Homo sapiens: one gene and its partners. The protein of the gene in region 2 purifies or fractionates together with the protein of the main gene of each other region. This does not show direct contact. Each region holds a gene or a part of one and is shown on either strand. Other genes may lie near its edges.

Region 1 (3,519 bases), on a different chromosome or scaffold from region 2:
CTAGGATAAGCATTACAGTTACTGCCTTTCTGCTCAGGAAGCTGAGGCAGAGAGAAGCAGCGTGACCTGTCTGAGGTCACACAATGCGACCTGGACCCTGAATCTTGTTTGTAGCCTAGCAAGCCTGGGGAGCAGGGGCCGTGTGGCCCCCCTGCTGGCTGCTCTGAGCCGAACCTGGGTGCGTGGCCGGCCGCAGCCTCACCTCAGGCCTCACCTCTCCTGGGGGGCCAGCCGGGTGCCGCTTCCGGCTGGACACCCGGCTCCGACGCATCCGGCGGAATGACTGACGCAAGGACTTCTTGAGGGACTTGACGCGGGAGAGTGGGCCCTCCAAGGCCAGCTGGTCACTGGGGTGCAGTGTGCACCTTGGGGGGATGGCAGGCTGTCAGTGCTGCTAGGTCCTGGGAGTCCTCGCGGGCCCCACTCCCAGCCCCGGGACCCAGCCGCCCCTGCTCACTTAACAAAGACCTGCCGCCGCTGCTGGTGGTCAAAGAGGCCAAAGCCATGGCTGGTGCCGAAGGCCACGAGCCGCCACTCAGAGTGCAGGGCCAAGGAGGTGACCACAGCCGGGGGCTGACACTGCACCAACACGAAGGGCTGAAAGCCAGGCTCAAAGCGCACGGGCCCTGAGCGGGCTGCCAGGCGCTCGTGCCCCTTCCAGCGGTAGCCCTCTTGGTCCTGCAGCAGGTCGGCCTCCACCTGCTCCACAGCCTGCTCCGCTGCCTCGTCATTCAGTTCCAGTACCAGCACCTGCGCAGGGTGGCAGGTGGCTCAGCAAGCCCTCAGCAAAGGGACGGCAGGGCCGCAGGATGCTACTAGTGGGGACAGCAAAGGAGCTGGGCCCAAGGCTCAAGGAAGGACAAAGGCCTCTGTCCAACCCCAGCTCTCCTGCATTTTTTTTTTTTTTTTTTGAGACAAGTCTTGCTCTGTTGCCCAGGCTGGAGCGCAGTGGCACAATCTCGGCTCACTGCAACCTCTGCCTCCCAGGTTCAAGTGATTCTCTTGTCTCGGCCTTCCAGTAGCTGGGATTACAGGCACGAGCCACAAATGCCTGGCTAATTTTTATATTTTTAGTAGAGATGGGGTTTCACCATGTTGGCCAGGCTGGTCTCGAACTCCTGACCTCAGGTGATCCGCCTGCCTTGGTCTCCCAAAGTGCTGGGATTACAGGCATGAGCCACCGTGCCCGGCCCAGCCCTTAATTCCGATTTCTGGAGAAGAAACAACCATCCCAGGGACCTCCCGCCAAGGGGATCAAGCCACCTCCATCCACCGGAAAAGCAAAGGACACAGAATGTGCGTTAGGCAGGTGGTTGGCTCCTGTCCCTGCTGTCCCCAGTCATCGACCACTCCTCCCCAGCTCCCCCTCCCCAGCCCAGCCTGCTACCTGCCCTGCCGTGCCTGCCACAGCCAGGTAGCCGCTGTACTTGCAGAGGAAGATCTTCTGGATGCCCAGCCGGGGGTCATCACTGTAGGGGTCAAAGGAGCCCACCTGGAGAAGGGGAGGGGCCCTGTGAGCAGCCACGGGGACAGGACCCAGCTGGCCTCTGCCCTTCCTGGGTCCCAGGCTCCTGGCCTCACCTTGCGGAGTGGGGGCCACTCGTCCTCGCCCTGGGCACTGAAGTTCTCGTTGGGGTCCGTGTCGGTGAGGAACACGCGCACAGTGCTGAGTTTGTAGAGCAGCCGCAGGCAGACACCCGAGGCATCCCAGAACCGCACCGTGCCGTCCTCGTGCCTGTGGGCAGAACCCACCTGCCAGGCGTGAGAGGGATGCCAGCCGGGATGCCCAGGGGCTGGCTCGTCCACCTCAGGGCTCTGCTCCCACCCCACATATCCTACTGGGAAGAGGTGGGGTAGCATCAAAGTACCCTACCCTGTGAGCAGCAGGTCCCTCTGGGGTGGGGCTGGGGTCAGGCTGGTGCCACCATCAATTGGCCACTCCTAGAAAAAGAGACCAAGAAGTCCATGGGAGAGTTTGGCTTGCGGTGGGGCTGGGGCTGGGGCCAGGGCCAGACCTACCATGGTGGAGAAGTGTGCGTTCTGCCGGCTGCCGGCGGCAATGATCCGCTCCCACAGCTTCAGCGGGATGTTGGAGACGTGGTGAGAGCAGGTGATGGCGGAACAGTGCAGAGAAGCCAGGTAGGGCAGCTGGACCGGTGGCCAGCCTGCTGTCTGCAGGTCAATCACCACCAGCTCCTCCTCAGCCAGCACCACCAGGGCATAGGGGTCGTCAAAGGCTGGGGTACAGGGCAAGGGTCAGGGGCCGGGGCCAGGAGGAAGCAGCCCAGCTCTGTGGAATCAGAAGCTCCAGGGTTGGAGCCAGGGCATCTGCAGATCCAGAAAGCCCTGTTCTTGGCTGCTTGAGCAAAGCCTTTCCATCTCCAGGAGGGCAGCAGGTGTGGGCAGTAGCCCTGGCTCTGCATGCAAGGCTGCTGAGAGCTCCCTGGCACAGGGCTCCTGGGGGGATACACCTGGCTGGAAGGCAGGGTCCCAACCAGGATAGGCACCCCAGAGGCATGCAGCTGTGCCTGCCAACCCTCTTCCCTGGTTTCTCCTCCATGGGGCCTGCTCTCCCTGCTCAGATGCACCTGTCAAGCCTCTCCCCACAGGCAGCAGCACGCGTGGTCTTCAGCACACCAGTTGCTAGGGGTGGCATTTTCTTTACTGCACACAATCACATCACCTCACTCAGGCCTGGACCCAGCTAGTGCTCAATAAATGTGCGCTGGATGATTAAACCATTTGTCTTTTTTTTTTTTTTTCTTTTCTCGAGACAGGGTTTCACACTCTGTCGCCCAGGCTGGAGTACAGTGGTGTGATCTCGGCTCATTGCAACCTCCACCTCCAGGTTCAAGCGATCCTCCTGCCTCAGGCTCCCAAGTAGCTGGGATTACAGGTGTGAGCCACGATACCCAGCTAACTTTTGTATTTTTGGTAGAGACAGGGTTTCGCCATGTTGCTCAGGCTGGTGTTGAACTCCTGGGCTCAAGTGATCTTCCCACCTTGGCCTCCCAAAATGCTGGGATTACAGGCATGAGCCACTGTGCCCAGTCTTTTTTTTCTCTTTTTTTTTTGAGATGGAGTCTTGCTCTGTCACCCAGGCTGGAGTGTAGTGGTGCGATCTCAGCTCACTGCAACCTCCGCCTCCCGGGTTCAAGCGATTCTCCTGCCTCAGCTTCCCAAGTAGCTGGGATTACAGGCACTCACCACCACGCCTGGCTAATTTTTGTTTTTCTTTTTTATTTTTTGAGACGGAGTTTCGCTCTTGTTGCCCAGGCTGGAGTGCAATGGCATGATCTCGGCTCACTGCAACCTCTGCCTCCCGGGTTCAAGAGATTCTCCTGCCTCAGCCTCTCGAGTAGCTGGGATTACAGGCACATACCACCAATGCCTGGCTAATTTTTTATTTTTAGTAGAGACAGGGTTTCACCATGTTGGCCAGGCTAGTCTCGAACCCCTAACCTCAGGTGATCTGCCATCCTTGGCCTCCCAAAGTGCTAGGATTACAGCTGAGCCACT
Region 2 (3,519 bases):
ATTCATATTTTTCTGTAAGTAACAGAATTGGCTCTATTATATTAAATTCATTAGTTAGCAAATATAAATGCTTATGAATCAGGTGTCTTATAAAGTCAGGGTCCCCTAAGGCTTACTGGTCACTTTTTTCCCCCAACTATTCAGTTACTCAATACTATGTGTGTCTATTGCTGACAGAGATTAAGTCATTGCTACAGTAGGAAAACAGGTTGTCTTAAAATCATTAGTATCCCAATTGAGTTATTAATAACAAGTGCAGAATAAAACGCAGAGGAATACTAATCTCACCCCTTCTAAGTAGAGGCCCAGAGATCTCACCTGAATTCTGACTTTCAGGGCAATCTTTCTTTAAATGTTCCACAGAGCCACAAAGTTTGCAACCGCCACCTATTGAAAGAGCAAAGCCACTGAATACCATCTCATACTTGCAAGGGGTTTTTAACATCTCAAAGCACTTTCACATCTTACTGGATCCTCACAACCCTGTCAGTTGTAAAGGTAGCTAGACCAGGATCATAGGGAGGTGCCACTATTCCTATTAATTCATTCTCCATTCCTTTTAACCTCACAGAGCACTAAATTGTACCCACCCACTGCTTCTTGCACCTGGCCTTGAGAAGTAGGAAAAAGAAATGAGATATGATGGAAGGCACTTGTTCAAGAGCTATTGCACAGAAGCCTGGATCTTAACAATGCTTAGACAATCAAGAGTCTGTGAACCCTTGGACCTGTAAACAAAAGATGTAAGCAGATGCACTTTCCTGAATAGCATGTCAGATTCTCAAACAGTCAATGGCCCAAAAACAGATTAGAAACTACTGTTCTACTGTACAGATCAGATGGGGGTAAGCATTTATGAAAGAAATAAAGTTAATTTTTGTTTCAGTGCCTTCCACTGGCCAGGCACCCTAACCCTATAAAAATGCCCACCTGCCTACTTTAAACAACATTCCAGGATTGTGAATTACAACACATGTGGTTTCTAAAATAAGTGTTTCACTTAATGATCAAACACTATTGCTTAATGGTCAAGCATTATCTTGATCATGCTCGAAATGTTAAGTGACTTAGAAAAATGACCTAATCAGATACAAATCTGGCTGAATTTTCTTTTTTTTTTCCCCCAAATCTTGACTTTATTTTTAACATAAAAATGCAAATGTGGAAACCCACCCTACTTTTCCCCCAACATAATGCTTTACCTCTTAAAAATAAAGTACTAATTCTATATACATCAAATGTACCATACAAAAATGTATCCAGTGTTTCTATTGCTACTAAAGTGTTCTAAATTAAAACAAATCGCAGAAAGCCCCTTATTGTAAACAAAAGATTACAAGGTATAAAATCAAGGCACACACAGGCAAATATGGCCAAATTTTCACATCTATGGGATCTACTCTCCTTGCTGCATTAATTTTTTTTTTTTTTTTTTTTTTTACAGCTAGTCACTTTGGTTGACCAGTGAAAGCCATTTTTGCTCACTAGTCATGTTATCTACCCAGTTTTATAAGCTCAAAACTGAAATGCACCTGAGCATTTTCCAGGCCCTGGCCTCTTTATATGCCATAGTGAAAGAGAAGCACTTGAATAATACATTTTAATCCTTATAAAAATTCTTTAGGCAAATACCATAATTCATCAACTCTAAGACACCACTGATTATAAGATGTATCATTATTGCACATACCTCTCAGAAAGAAAAACAGCTGTCAATTATATGGGACCCACCAACGGTAAGATACATTCTGATTTCCAAGAGATTAAAATTGAAAAACTGTGCATCTTAGAATCAATAAAATATAGTTTTATCATCTCCACTCTATAGGTGAGGAAACGGAGATCAGAGTTTGGTAGTTGGCCAAAGCCCCCCAGCTAGTGAGTGGCAGTGCTGGCGCTGTAACCCAAGTCTGACCAACTCCAAAAGCTATGCTTTTTCACTGGACTTCTCCAGGAGGGAAACCCAGGACATGACACAAGAAACGTCTAGAGCCTGATGGCACCAGCCATCACATTAACAGATAACAACCTCCGCCTTAAAGCTTTAGACCGCATAGACTTTACTGTGTGAACCTTAATTACCCGAGTTAAAGAGAAAAAAGCTACATGATCCCATACCAGACAAATAACTAAGAAAAAAAATTCAGAAGCAAACATTACTACAATATTGAATCATCTGTACCCACCCCTCCACCAAAATGATATGCTGGCTGAGGCTGAATATATAATACGATTTTAAAAACCTCATATTAGCTTGAGATATAATCTCTCTGCTTCTGTTATGTCTAAAAGTAGAAATGTATGACATAGTCTCACAAATGATGAAGCAAGCACAGTTGGAAATATACACCTTAGTTTTTTCTGATTTGTTTTATTAACATCTGAAGTCAAATTGCACAAAAAGCCTAGTACATATGATAGCACTTGATAAAAATAATGTAATTCTCAAGGTTTTGCAATTTATTCAAGAATTTATTCAAGAACTGTGATTGAGTGTAAATTAAATCACAACTGCACGATGACTCACCATTTCTGCTATATGAGGGTAACAGTACTTACCATCAGCATAGAGTCCTTTGGGATTATCAGGACAAGATCTAGACAGGTGCCCCATTTCTCCACAAACAAAACATTTTGCAAAAGGAAATTCGCCTGTAAAAATCAACAGTTCCTATTCAGTTGACAATACATATGGCAAGTCATAAAATTAACATTATTTTAAAATACTCTGAATAAAAAATATATTTACATAACTTAAAATTTAATCTCATATGATTTCCAAATACTAAGTGGCACACTCGTAACAAATTGTGTTAAAAAAATACCCAAGGTGCTATTTATTGGCTTTCCCCATGAACAAAACAAAAAACTGAAAGAAACACATACCAAGAGCCGGGTCTACTTTAGCCTTACACTTGGTTATTTCGTGCTCTGTGGACCCACACCTGTAACATATCCCAGTGCCCATGTCTTGATTTTCAAGGGCGGCGGGGCAATCTGCAATTCCATGACCAGGTTTTCTACAATGGAAACACACCTAGGAAAACAAAACGTAGGTTGGCACGCTGCAAAACTATACCAGTGACTTTATTAATTCTTGTTATCAAAAACATATTTAAAACATTTCTCATCTTATTAAGCTATTTTTCTGAAATCTCAATATTTGTAGAAAAAAGCTTTCATACGTTCCTAAACAACGAGATATCCTTTCCATCAGAGGGTTTCATTGCTTTTGAAAACCTCAATCAATAAATCCATAAATCTCAGGAACAATGTTATATATGTGGCTTTGTAGACGGCAATTGCTTAAATGAATTGAGCAAATATGGACTATTCATTTTATTAACTGGAATGTCTGCAGTAGAAAAATGGCATTTTCTATAGGAAATGGACAGTGGCTATAAAAACTGTCACTCAAAATTTGTATTTGTATATAATTATGTACTCAAAATTTTAAAAAATTAATATTTCTTTTAAAGTTCACATAATTGAATGAATTTGGGTCAGACATTTCCATTC
Region 3 (3,073 bases), on a different chromosome or scaffold from region 2:
ATATATGTGTGTGTGTGTGTGTGTGTGTGTGTGTGTATATATAGAATATATATGTGTGTGTGTATATATATATATATAGAGAGAGAGAGAGAGAGAATATATGTAAATATATTCCACACATGTACGGTGTTGTAACTTTAGAGACCCTGTCTCTAAAATAGAAATATTATATATATTATTACATATTATGTATATATACATATATATATATTTTTGAGACAGAGTCTTGCTTTGTCACCCAGGTTGGAGTACAGTCGTGCAATCTCTGCTCACTGCAACCTCTGCCTCCTGGGTTCAAGTGATTCTCCTGCCTCAGCCTCATGAGTAGCTGGGACTACAGGTGCCCACCACCACGTCCGGCTAATTTTTTGTACTTTTAGTAGAAATGGGGTTTCACCATATTGGCCAGGCTGGTCTCGAACTCCTGACCTCGTGATCCGCCCACCTCGGCCTCCCAAAGTGCTGGGATTACAGGCGTGAGCCACCACGCCAGGCTAAAGATATTATTTTTTAGAGACAGGGTCTTGCTGTGTCACCCAGGAGGGAGTGCAGTGGTGCAATCATAGTTCATTGCAACCTTGAACTCCTGGGCTCAAGCCAGCCTCCTGCCACAGCCTCTCTAGTAGCGGGGTCTACAGGCACACACCATAAGTAAGCCTGGCTTATTTATCTTTTCTTGTGTGTGGTGGAGACAGGATCTTGCTATGTTGTCCAGGCTGGTCTTGAATTCCTGAGCTTGAGTGATCCTCCCATCTAGGCCTTCCAAAGTGCTACAATTGCAGGTGTGAGCTACCGCACTTGGCCTGACAACAGCTTATATATAGGTTGCACTTTAAACCATGGATGAAGTATTTATAGCAACTCTTCTTCTTTTTTGATTAATTAAAAAATGTTAGGGCCAGGCACGATGGGTCCCATCTGTAATCACAGCACTTTGGGAGGGCGAGGTGGGCAGAGAGCTTGAATGCAGGTGTTCAAGAGCAGCCTGAGCAACATGGCAAAACCCCTTCTCTACCAAAAAAAAAAAAAAAAAAAAAAAAAAAGCCAGGCATGATGGTGGACACCTATAGTTCCAAGTACTCGGGAGGCTGAGGTGGGAAGATTGCTTGACCCTTGGAGCAGAGGTTGCAGTGAGCCAAGATCACACCACGGTACTCCAGCCTGGTGACAGAGCAAGACTACATCTCAATAACAACAACAATAATAATAGGGTTATACAAAGCATTCTTTCCCTCTTTTCTTTCTTCCTGACATGGCAAACTCAACATATAAAAAAATAAAGTCTATTTTCTCCCGGAGCCACTATGTCCATGAATGGAATCACCATCCTTCCAGATACCTGTGTTTGAAATTTTCAGTCTTCCTCCTTTCTACCTCCACCGTCAAAGGCAATCCATCAATGAGTGTTACATCCTCTACAAGTCGAACTTCCTTCCTTTGTTTTTTTTTTTCCTTTTGAGACGGGGTCTTGCTCTGTTGCCTAGGCTGGAGTGCAGTGGCACGATCTTGGCTCACTGTAATCTCTGCTTCCCAGGCTCAAGCAATTCTCCTGCCTCACCCTCCCAAGTAGCTGGGATTACAGGAGCACGCCACCATGCCCAGCTCACTTTTGTATTTTTAGTAGAAATGGGGTTTAACCCAGCTGAGTATCTGGACACTAAAATAAAATAGCAACGTGCTCCTTAGTTCACATCCAACAGCTTTATTCTTAGCATGTGTGGCAATTCTTGATTAATTGGAATTAAAATAAACAATAGCACCTGTGGTGCAAATACTATTTAAAAAAAAAAAAAGAAATGGGGTTTAACCTTGTTGGCCAGGCTGGTCTCGAACGCCTGACATCAGGTGATCCGCCCACACTTGGCCTCCCAAAGTGCCGGGATTATGGGTGTAAACCATTGCTCCCAGCCTGAACTTTCCATTTTTTATTTTATCTATTTGTTTTTTTTGAGACAGAGTCTCGCTCTGTCACTCGGGCTGGAGTGCGGTGGCACGATCTCGGCTCACTGCAAGCTCCGCCTCCCAGGTTCACGCCATTCTCCTGCCTCAGACTCCCGAGTAGCTGGGACTACAGGCGCCCACCACCACGCCTGGCTAATTTTTTGTACTTTTTAGTAGAGACGGGGTTTCACCATGTTAGCCAGGATGGTCTTGATCTCCTGACCTCGTGATCTGCCCGCCTTGGCCTCTCAAAGTGCTGGGATTACAGGCATGAGCCACCGCGCCCGTCCTGAACTTTTTATTTTTATAGTCATTTCCAGTCATCTCCTCTTTCCAGACACCCTAAATGAAAGGCTCTTATTACTTCTGAGTTGCCAAGTTCACTAATCTTAAGCTAGCCTCATGCATCCAATTATCTTCCTTTGAAACAATCCTGAAGTCGGCCGGGCGCGGTGGCTCATGCCTGTCATCCTAGCACTTTGGGAGGCCGAGGCAGGCGGATCACCTGAGGTCGGGAGTTCAAGTCTAGCCTGACCAACATGGAGAAAACCCGTCTCTACTAAAAATACAAAATTAGCCGGGCATGGTGGCGCATGCCTGTAAACCCAGCTACTCAGGAGGCTGAGGCAGAGGTTGCAGTGAGCCCCGATTGCGCCACTGCACTCCTGCCTGGGCAGCAAGAGCGAAACTCCATCTCAAAAAAAAGAAACAATCCTGAAGTCACTAAATTAATCTTCCTGCATTACAGTTCTGATCATGTTACTTTTATATTTTTATTTTTTATTTTTGTGATTTCTAATGAACACCTTGCAGATGTCACTTTTATTCACTCACGCATTCGTTCATTCATTTTGTAAAAAATTATTGGTAATTGCAATATATAGTGACAGGATCTGGCCTGAGTTGTGGGGACAAATATATGAAAATACACAGACCCTGTCCTCAAGACATTTGAAATCAGGAATTGTTTGTCTTTGTTCATTTTTGTGACCAGCATCTTGTCTGGGATACAGAAGACATAAACATAATTGTTCCATATACGCATGAATCAGTGATGGTTATCCTGTATTGCCAGGCACTGATCGAAGGTCTCTGCTAATTTGCTACTCACGACAACAGAATAATGTTAGTG
Region 4 (3,519 bases), on a different chromosome or scaffold from region 2:
GTGGGAGGTGGATGGGTGAACAGGTTAACACCCCTTGTGATGCCTGTGGTTAGAGGATGTGGAAATCCAGGAGCAGTGCCTAACCCAGCTGGAGATTAGGTGGCCAGGGAAGGCCCTTGAGGAGGTGACGTGACAGCTGCGACCCAACGCGTACAGCAGACAGAAATGACCGCTGCTACCGCGGCTCCTCAGGAGGTTGAAAGCCTTCCTCCACCACACAGAATGTTCTGGCAGCTGAGGCTTCCTCCTGCAGCCACAGCCTGTGGCAGCCCCACCTACTACCCTCCGTCTGTTCCCAGGGGCCTGAGCAGGCTCCAGCCTGGGCTTCAGAACGGAAGTGGGAAGGGCTGACCCTGCGGGGAGCGGTTTCTGGGGACCTGGGTCCATGTGGAGGTGGAAAGTGCGGCACCCTGGGCATTCTGGGGTGGTGACCCTGTCTCCGTGCTTGAAGTTCTCTGCGTGGGTCAGAGGCCCCCTCCTTCTTAGGGAACAGAACAGTGACACTGTGACGCATGAGTCCCACGGGCTGAGGGCTCACTGCAGCTAGGCTTCCCAGGTTCCCTCTGCATCGGGCATGAGCGAGGCACTTCACACCGGCTTTCTCAGCCTCGGTGCTATTGCCATTCAAGGCCGGGTCATTCTTCGTTGACGGGGGCTGTCCCCTGCATTGCAGGATATTTACATGCCAGCAACACCCCCAACACCCAGATGTGGCAACCAAAAATGTCTCCAGATATTGCTCAGCGGGCCCTGAGGGGCAGAATGGCCCTGGGTTGAGAACCGTTGCATTTTAAATTCCCTCATTTAGTACAATCCTCCCCACTCGCCTGTGAAGGAAGATTATATGTCTCCAGTTGTTTGTTTTGGAGACAGAGGTTTTTTTTTTTTTTTTTTTTTAAAGACAGGATCCCACTCTGTTGCCCAGGCTACAGTGCAGTGGTGTAATCACATCTCACTGCAGCCTCAACCTGTAAGACTCAAGCGATTCTCCCACCTCAGCCTTGTAAGTTGCTGGGACTATGGGTGCATGCCACCATACTTGGCTAATTTTTAATTTTTTTTTTTTTTTGTAGAGACAGGGTCTCCCTAAGTTGCCCAGGCTGGTCTTGAACTCCTGGCTTGAAGTGATGCTCCCACCTTGGCCGCCCAAAGTGCTGGGATTACAGGCTTAATTGAACCATGGTGCTCGGCCTGAGACAGGGTCTCAATCTCTTGCCCAGGCAGGAGTGCAGTGGCATGATCACAGCTCACTGCAGCCTTGACCTCCTGGGCTCAAGAGATCCTCCTACCTCAGTTTCCTGAGTAGCTAAGGCTACAGGCATTCACCACTATGCCTGGCTAATTTTCAAATATTTTGTAGAGTCAGGGTCTTATTATGTTACCTAGGCTCCTGGCCTCAAGTGATCTTCCTGCCTCAGTCTCCCAAGTAGCTGAGATTGCAGGTGTGAGCCACCATACCTGGCCTGTCCGCATTTTACAGATGAAGAAATGGAGCTCACAGAGGGAGAGTAACTAGCCCCAGGTGACACAAAGAGTAACTGGTGGCTGGATGCTGAGTCCCGTGATGGCCACCGGGGCTGAAGATTCCCAGCTTGGGTGAGATGGTGTTACTCACTTTCTGAAGCTCTTCGGCAAATGTATGGCCCTTTTCTGTGACTAATTCCAGAGCAAACCTATGAAGAAAAAGGAAAAAGAATTTGCCTGTAATGTAATGTCCCTAGGCCCTGTCTTGCCATAAACAATAGATTCTCAGGTGGCAGGCCATTTAGTTAATTTAGCTATAATAGCCATGTTATTTTTCTTGCTAACAATAAGAACATTATAGCCTTCCATTTGGGGGCGGTGGTATTTGTTTCTTGAAATGCCTTTTCGGATGCTCATTATTTCCAGTCAAGAATTCCTTTTGAACAGCTACTCTGGCCAGGCCCAGGAGAGTCAGTGGTGAACAGAAGCTGACCCAGGCTCTCTCCAGCAAGTTGGTGACAGGGTGAGCAGTGACAGTCTCAAGTGCTGGATCCTGAGCTCTGACCCGCAGCCCTGTGGTGATAGGTGAGTGGGAACCAGACAGACCCAGGTGCAAATTCTGCACCGCTGCTGAGTGTCTCTGGGACTTCAGGCAAAGCTTACACCTTCATGTTCAGGAGCGTGATATTCAGGAGTGTGATAGGTAATCAGATTAGACATACTCCTGAATGTGAAGGTGCAAACTGAGATCAGTGCTCTGAAGGAAAGAGCAATAGAAGCCTAATCTGACCTTGGCTAGAGAGGCAGGGAGGGCTTCCTGGAGGAGGTGATGCTGGAGGGGAGACTTTGAAGGCTGGGGAGGACTTCCCTCATAAGGCAGAGAAAGCAAACTGCCCCCCGACACAGGTCAGGACCCTGGCTCTGCCTCCCTCAGAACCCTGCACTTCCCTCCTGCACCAGTCAGTGCCCCAGCAGGAGACAGTGGCGCGCTGCAGGGATTCCTGGAGGAGGGCTTTGGGAAGGGACAATTCACAGAGGTATGGGCAGAGTTTCAGGGAAATGCAGGAGCCTGAAGGGCAAGGGTCGGGGAAGGTACAACTCACCCTGGAGGGAGCTGAATTCTGGAGTCACTCAGCAGGGAGGGAGTTAGGTAGGGAGCCCAGCTGCCACCAGAGCCATGCACCACTGGGGAACAGGGTCACACACACTCATGAGCTCTCTGCACTCACTCTCCTATCACCTACTGGTGCCTCCCACTGGCTGGACCCACCTGAATGCCAGAAGACCAACGAATCGAGGTGGCACAGCCACCAGGTGATAAGGTCAGCCTCCCATGCATAAAGAGAAGGTGAAGAGAAGGGATTTGAAAGGGCCAATGGAGAATATCCAGCCCATCTTCCTGGCACATCTTACAGTTAGAACTAAACACACCAGTATGTGATTCCCGTCTGGTGTGTCTTCCCCTCTGGACCAAAGGGAGGGCTGTGCAGGCTGGGACACAGTCTGTCTCCATCATAGCGGATGCCCCATGCCTGCCTCACAGGAGGTGTGCAGAAGTACCTGCTTGCCGAGGGATGCCCCGTGACCAGGCCAGTGGCAGGCCCCACCCTGGGCACTTGCCCCAAGCCTGCTCCCACCCTCGTAGCTGCCCAGTGAGTGCTGCCTGCTCCCTGCACTCTGCAGCTCAGGAAGGTGGGGCTGAGGTTCTGCTCCCTGCACTCTGCAGCTCAGGAAGGCGGGGCTGAGGTTCTCTGTTGAGCAGCGCCTCGCACTGCAGATGCTTGGTCAATATCTGACCAAGGAAGAATCCACAACTGAGGTTTCTCCAACCTCCCGCTCCTCCTCAACTGAGAGACGATGGCTCGTGTTTTAGAGCTCATTAGAATAGCTGATGCGAGAACTGGCCTTTTCTCCCTTTGCCCACTTGGTCTTGTGTCTGCCCTCTTCTGGACCCCCTCCCACACACACCAAGGGGTTTGTTTGCCTTCTCTACCCGGCTGGCTGACTATCTGTACCTCCCATTATCTGTCCCGAAAATCTCACCTAGTCAGGCCC
Region 5 (3,519 bases), on a different chromosome or scaffold from region 2:
AAGTCAGGTTTGCTGGTAAAGGGGAGACAGTACTAAACGCCCTGCCCAACAAATACTCAGAATCCAGGGTTTTCATATTTCTCCATGGTTCAATCTCTCACAGGTCACTTTCCATTCAAAGGATTATGGAGACCAAATAAGACAGGATTCTTTCAGGTATCAACCCAGAGTCTTTAGGTCTTCTCTCAGCCAAGGCATCGAGTGAAAATACAATTTATTTTTCGGATTCCTCTGGAGGATTAAAAAGTTTCTTTCGCATTGCAATGCCATGCTCCCTGCTCTTGGTCCTGTTTTCTACGTACTGAAAAATAAAAGAAGGGGGGGAGAAAAGAAACAGCAGATTATGTCACTATTTATAGCAGTTTACTATTTAGAAATATTTGCAAAATATAAATGTCCTTTGAGGTTAACAGGGTTTAAATTTTTTAAACATGTTCTTACTGACAAAATTCTTATCTTTTATTTAACCAAATCTGAGATTGGAAATAGTTACCTTAGAGAGTATCTCATATCTAGCACAATTTCATTCAATACAGTACAGCATCTACATGCTAATAGATGCACAAATGTTTGCTCAATCAATTTCCTCCCAAAATTTGAATTAAATAAGTACTGAAGATGGGCAAATTCTGTCCATGTTCTCCAGGGGCTTGCAGTCTAACTAGTCCTCTAACTTCTGCTGAGTACCTCTAGTGGAGAGGCTCACTTCCTTGAGAGGTAGCCTGTCTAACTGTTGGGACAATTCTACTCATTCCCAAGTTTTTCATTTTAAACCAAAAGTGCTTCCCTGTAAACTCCTTGAGAGGTAGCCTGTCTAACTGTTGGACAATTCTACTCGTTCCAAAGTTTTTCATTTTAAACCAAAAGTGCTGCCTTGTCAACTACCACCTTTTATTTCTTCTTGTCTGCTATAATTTTCAAACATTTAATTACAGATAACCCACTTACTACCTTTTGCGCTGAACATTGCTAGTTTCCACAACTGCTGCACAGAACACAGCCTCCATCTTTTAATATCTAACCTATAAAATGACTTTTATTTCATAAAGCACTTTAACATTAATGCCCCTTACCAAAAAAAAAAATCACAACCAAAATTGAATACAGTGCTCCAGTCACAATGACAGACATAGACTACAGTGGGCCTACATCTTAGACCAGCTCACATTGTATTTCTTTAGACATTATCAAGAGTAACTAGCTCTTAGCAACCATATTATCCTATTGACTCATATGGAAATACATAGCTCAACTTCCCAAGGTTTCTTCATCACGAACAGTTAACAAACCTGATACTCCTCAAATCCTATGTTTCTTAATCAGCTACATATAAACACAGTTTTCACCTCAAGAGGTTTTCAGCCTAGTATTCTGATCTGGCCAGCAGGTTACAACAGGAGACACAAAGCCTGGCACTTAGATTTTCTTAAATAGTTAACCTACATTTAAAGCAGAGGACCTTAAAAGTGTTTTTATATGTATATATGTACATGCTTATAATACATACACCAATCCAACACACTTTAAAGGTGGATGAGTGTGTTTTCCCCTGGGCAGAAGGGGAAAAGGGTAAAAGTAAATTCAAACAGAAAAAACTGAAAACATGTGAACAGTTAAACATCAGAATCTTTTAGGAGCCACAGATCTGGAGAGCGAGGCCACAGAAATTAAAGATTAGTGATACCGAGCTCATCAGGGACAAACCCCGCCACCCAAGAGAGAGTAATGAGGGGATTCATGACTTTGAGTTACTTCACTCTTCTGGACCAGTAACTTCAAATATAAGGAGGTGGGCTAGATAATCTTTAAGAAGTTTTCTAGGTCAAAAGTTTTGACTGAAGGATTCTAACATATCTTCTGGAATGGTAGTTTTCAAACTTTTTATTACTTCCTTGTCAAAAGGCTACTTCAGGCCGGGTGCGGTGACTCATGCTTATAATCCCAGCACTTTGGGAGGCTGAGGCGAGCAGATCACCTGAGGTCAGGAGTTAGGGACCAGCCTGGCCAACATGGTGAAACCCCGTCTCTACTGAAAATACAAAAATTAGCAGGGCATGGTGGCATGCACCTGTAATTCCAGCTATTCAGGAGGCTGAGGCAGGAGAATCACTTGAATCCAGAAGGAGGAGGTTGCAGTGAGCCGAGATCGCACCACAGCACTCCAGCCTGGGTGACAAGAGTGAGACTTCGTCTCAAAAAAAAAGCTACTTTAAATTACACATGAAGCACCAGGTCCCTTCAAAGTCATTCATTTTATCTATCATACATTAAATTTACTCATAAAATTGTTGGGGAAAAAATCAATAAAACGTATTCTAGAACAAGGAAGGATACCTGCTCTGAGAAAAAGCTTTCATATCTACCTTTAATCACGTCTACTGGATTGCCCCCAGCAATCAGGTTGAGAAGGGTCTTAAGGGAAACTCTTCAGAAGATAATACTTTGTAGCAGGCCAATAAAATAAGTTACAAAGCAAATTAAAATATAGTCTACATTAAAATATGCTAAGACATCTCCAAAGGAAGTCCAGATGGTCCCTGAATAAAAGGGGAGAAAAGGATGAATATGAAGTTACTCACAAAACTCAATCAAACAATACAGACAGAATGAAAGGCCAATTAACCCCAAACCAAACAAAACAATTAAGAGGGACAAAAGAGAATGCCACAAAAGTACTATTAGTGTTTCTTTTCAAGAAGAAGAACAAAAGGCCAGGTGCAGTGGCTCACACCTGTAATCCAAAACTTTGGGAGGCCAAGATGGGAGAACTCCTTGAGCCCAGGAGTCTGAGACCACCCTGGGCAACACAACAAGACTCCATCTCTCTAAAAAAAAGAAAAAAAAAAAGAATAAAAGGAGTGACACAGCGGAGTCCCAACAAGAAATGGCCATACCCTTTTTCTACTTAAAAGCTTCATGGAGGCTGGGCGCAGTGGCTCACGCCTGTAACCCCAGCACTTTAGGAGGCCAAGGCGGGCGGATAACAAGCTCAGAAGATCAAGACCATCCTAGCTAACACGGTGAAGCCCCGTCTCTACTAAAAATACAAAAAATTAGCTGGGCGTGGTGGTGGGCACCTGTAGTCCCAGTTACTCAGGAGGCTGAGGCAGGAGAATGGCGTGAACCCGGGAGGAGGAGCTTGCAGTGGGCTGAGATTGCGCCACTGCACTCCAGCCTGGGTGACAGAGTGAGACTCTGGCAAAAAAAATAAAAAAATAAAAAAGCTTCATGGAATGAAGTAATCAGATGACATATGAAGCAAACAGTAGCAGGAAAGCATCTGAAGCAAGCATTAAGAGTAGAGAAGAAATACATGAGTGCAGACTCAGAGATTAGTGATGGGCAAGCAGACAGAAAAACATCTACAAATTAGAGAATAAACATCTACAAATTAGAGAATAAAGTAACATAACTACACAGAGGACTTAGAAAAGAATTCAAAGAGAAAACATGAGATGTATAGGAAAACAAACTCAGACAAAATAAGAAAAATATCTCCAACGGTCTACCAAAAAGTCA

Evidence for each region.
Region 1: the proteins of ZCCHC9 (region 2) and LLGL2 purify together in Homo sapiens (co-immunoprecipitation; one large-scale study listed by IntAct). This does not show direct contact.
Region 3: the proteins of ZCCHC9 (region 2) and OR1M1 purify together in Homo sapiens (affinity purification with mass spectrometry; one large-scale study listed by BioGRID and IntAct). This does not show direct contact.
Region 4: the proteins of ZCCHC9 (region 2) and MMAB purify together in Homo sapiens (affinity purification with mass spectrometry; one large-scale study listed by BioGRID and IntAct). This does not show direct contact.
Region 5: the proteins of ZCCHC9 (region 2) and CMC2 purify together in Homo sapiens (affinity purification with mass spectrometry; one large-scale study listed by BioGRID and IntAct). This does not show direct contact.

Annotation. Positions count from the first base shown.
Region 1 is NC_000017.11:75,567,194-75,570,712, reverse strand, and holds part of LLGL2 (LLGL scribble cell polarity complex component 2), read right to left. Parts: intron 2,238-3,519; coding exon 2,020-2,237; intron 1,942-2,019; coding exon 1,874-1,941; intron 1,736-1,873; coding exon 1,582-1,735; intron 1,493-1,581; coding exon 1,388-1,492; intron 751-1,387; coding exon 458-750; intron 366-457; coding exon 215-365; coding exon of another isoform or gene 203-214; intron 1-202. UniProt on the Homo sapiens protein: Part of a complex with GPSM2/LGN, PRKCI/aPKC and PARD6B/Par-6, which may ensure the correct organization and orientation of bipolar spindles for normal cell division.
Region 2 is NC_000005.10:81,308,079-81,311,597, reverse strand, and holds part of ZCCHC9 (zinc finger CCHC domain-containing protein 9), read right to left. Parts: intron 3,038-3,519; coding exon 2,887-3,037; exon of another isoform or gene 2,653-2,886; coding exon 2,560-2,652; exon of another isoform or gene 624-2,559; coding exon of another isoform or gene 572-623; intron 388-571; coding exon 319-387; intron 1-318. Other genes in the region: ACOT12 (acetyl-coenzyme A thioesterase), read left to right, coding at 572-623. UniProt on the Homo sapiens protein: May down-regulate transcription mediated by NF-kappa-B and the serum response element.
Region 3 is NC_000019.10:9,090,043-9,093,115, reverse strand, and holds part of OR1M1 (olfactory receptor 1M1), read right to left. Parts: intron 1-3,073. UniProt on the Homo sapiens protein: Odorant receptor.
Region 4 is NC_000012.12:109,563,504-109,567,022, forward strand, and holds part of MMAB (corrinoid adenosyltransferase MMAB precursor), read right to left. Parts: coding exon of another isoform or gene 3,508-3,519; intron 1,674-3,507; coding exon 1,616-1,673; intron 1-1,615. UniProt on the Homo sapiens protein: Converts cob(I)alamin to adenosylcobalamin (adenosylcob(III)alamin), a coenzyme for methylmalonyl-CoA mutase, therefore participates in the final step of the vitamin B12 conversion.
Region 5 is NC_000016.10:80,975,879-80,979,397, forward strand, and holds part of CMC2 (COX assembly mitochondrial protein 2 homolog), read right to left. Parts: intron 302-3,519; coding exon 215-301; 3' UTR 1-214. UniProt on the Homo sapiens protein: May be involved in cytochrome c oxidase biogenesis.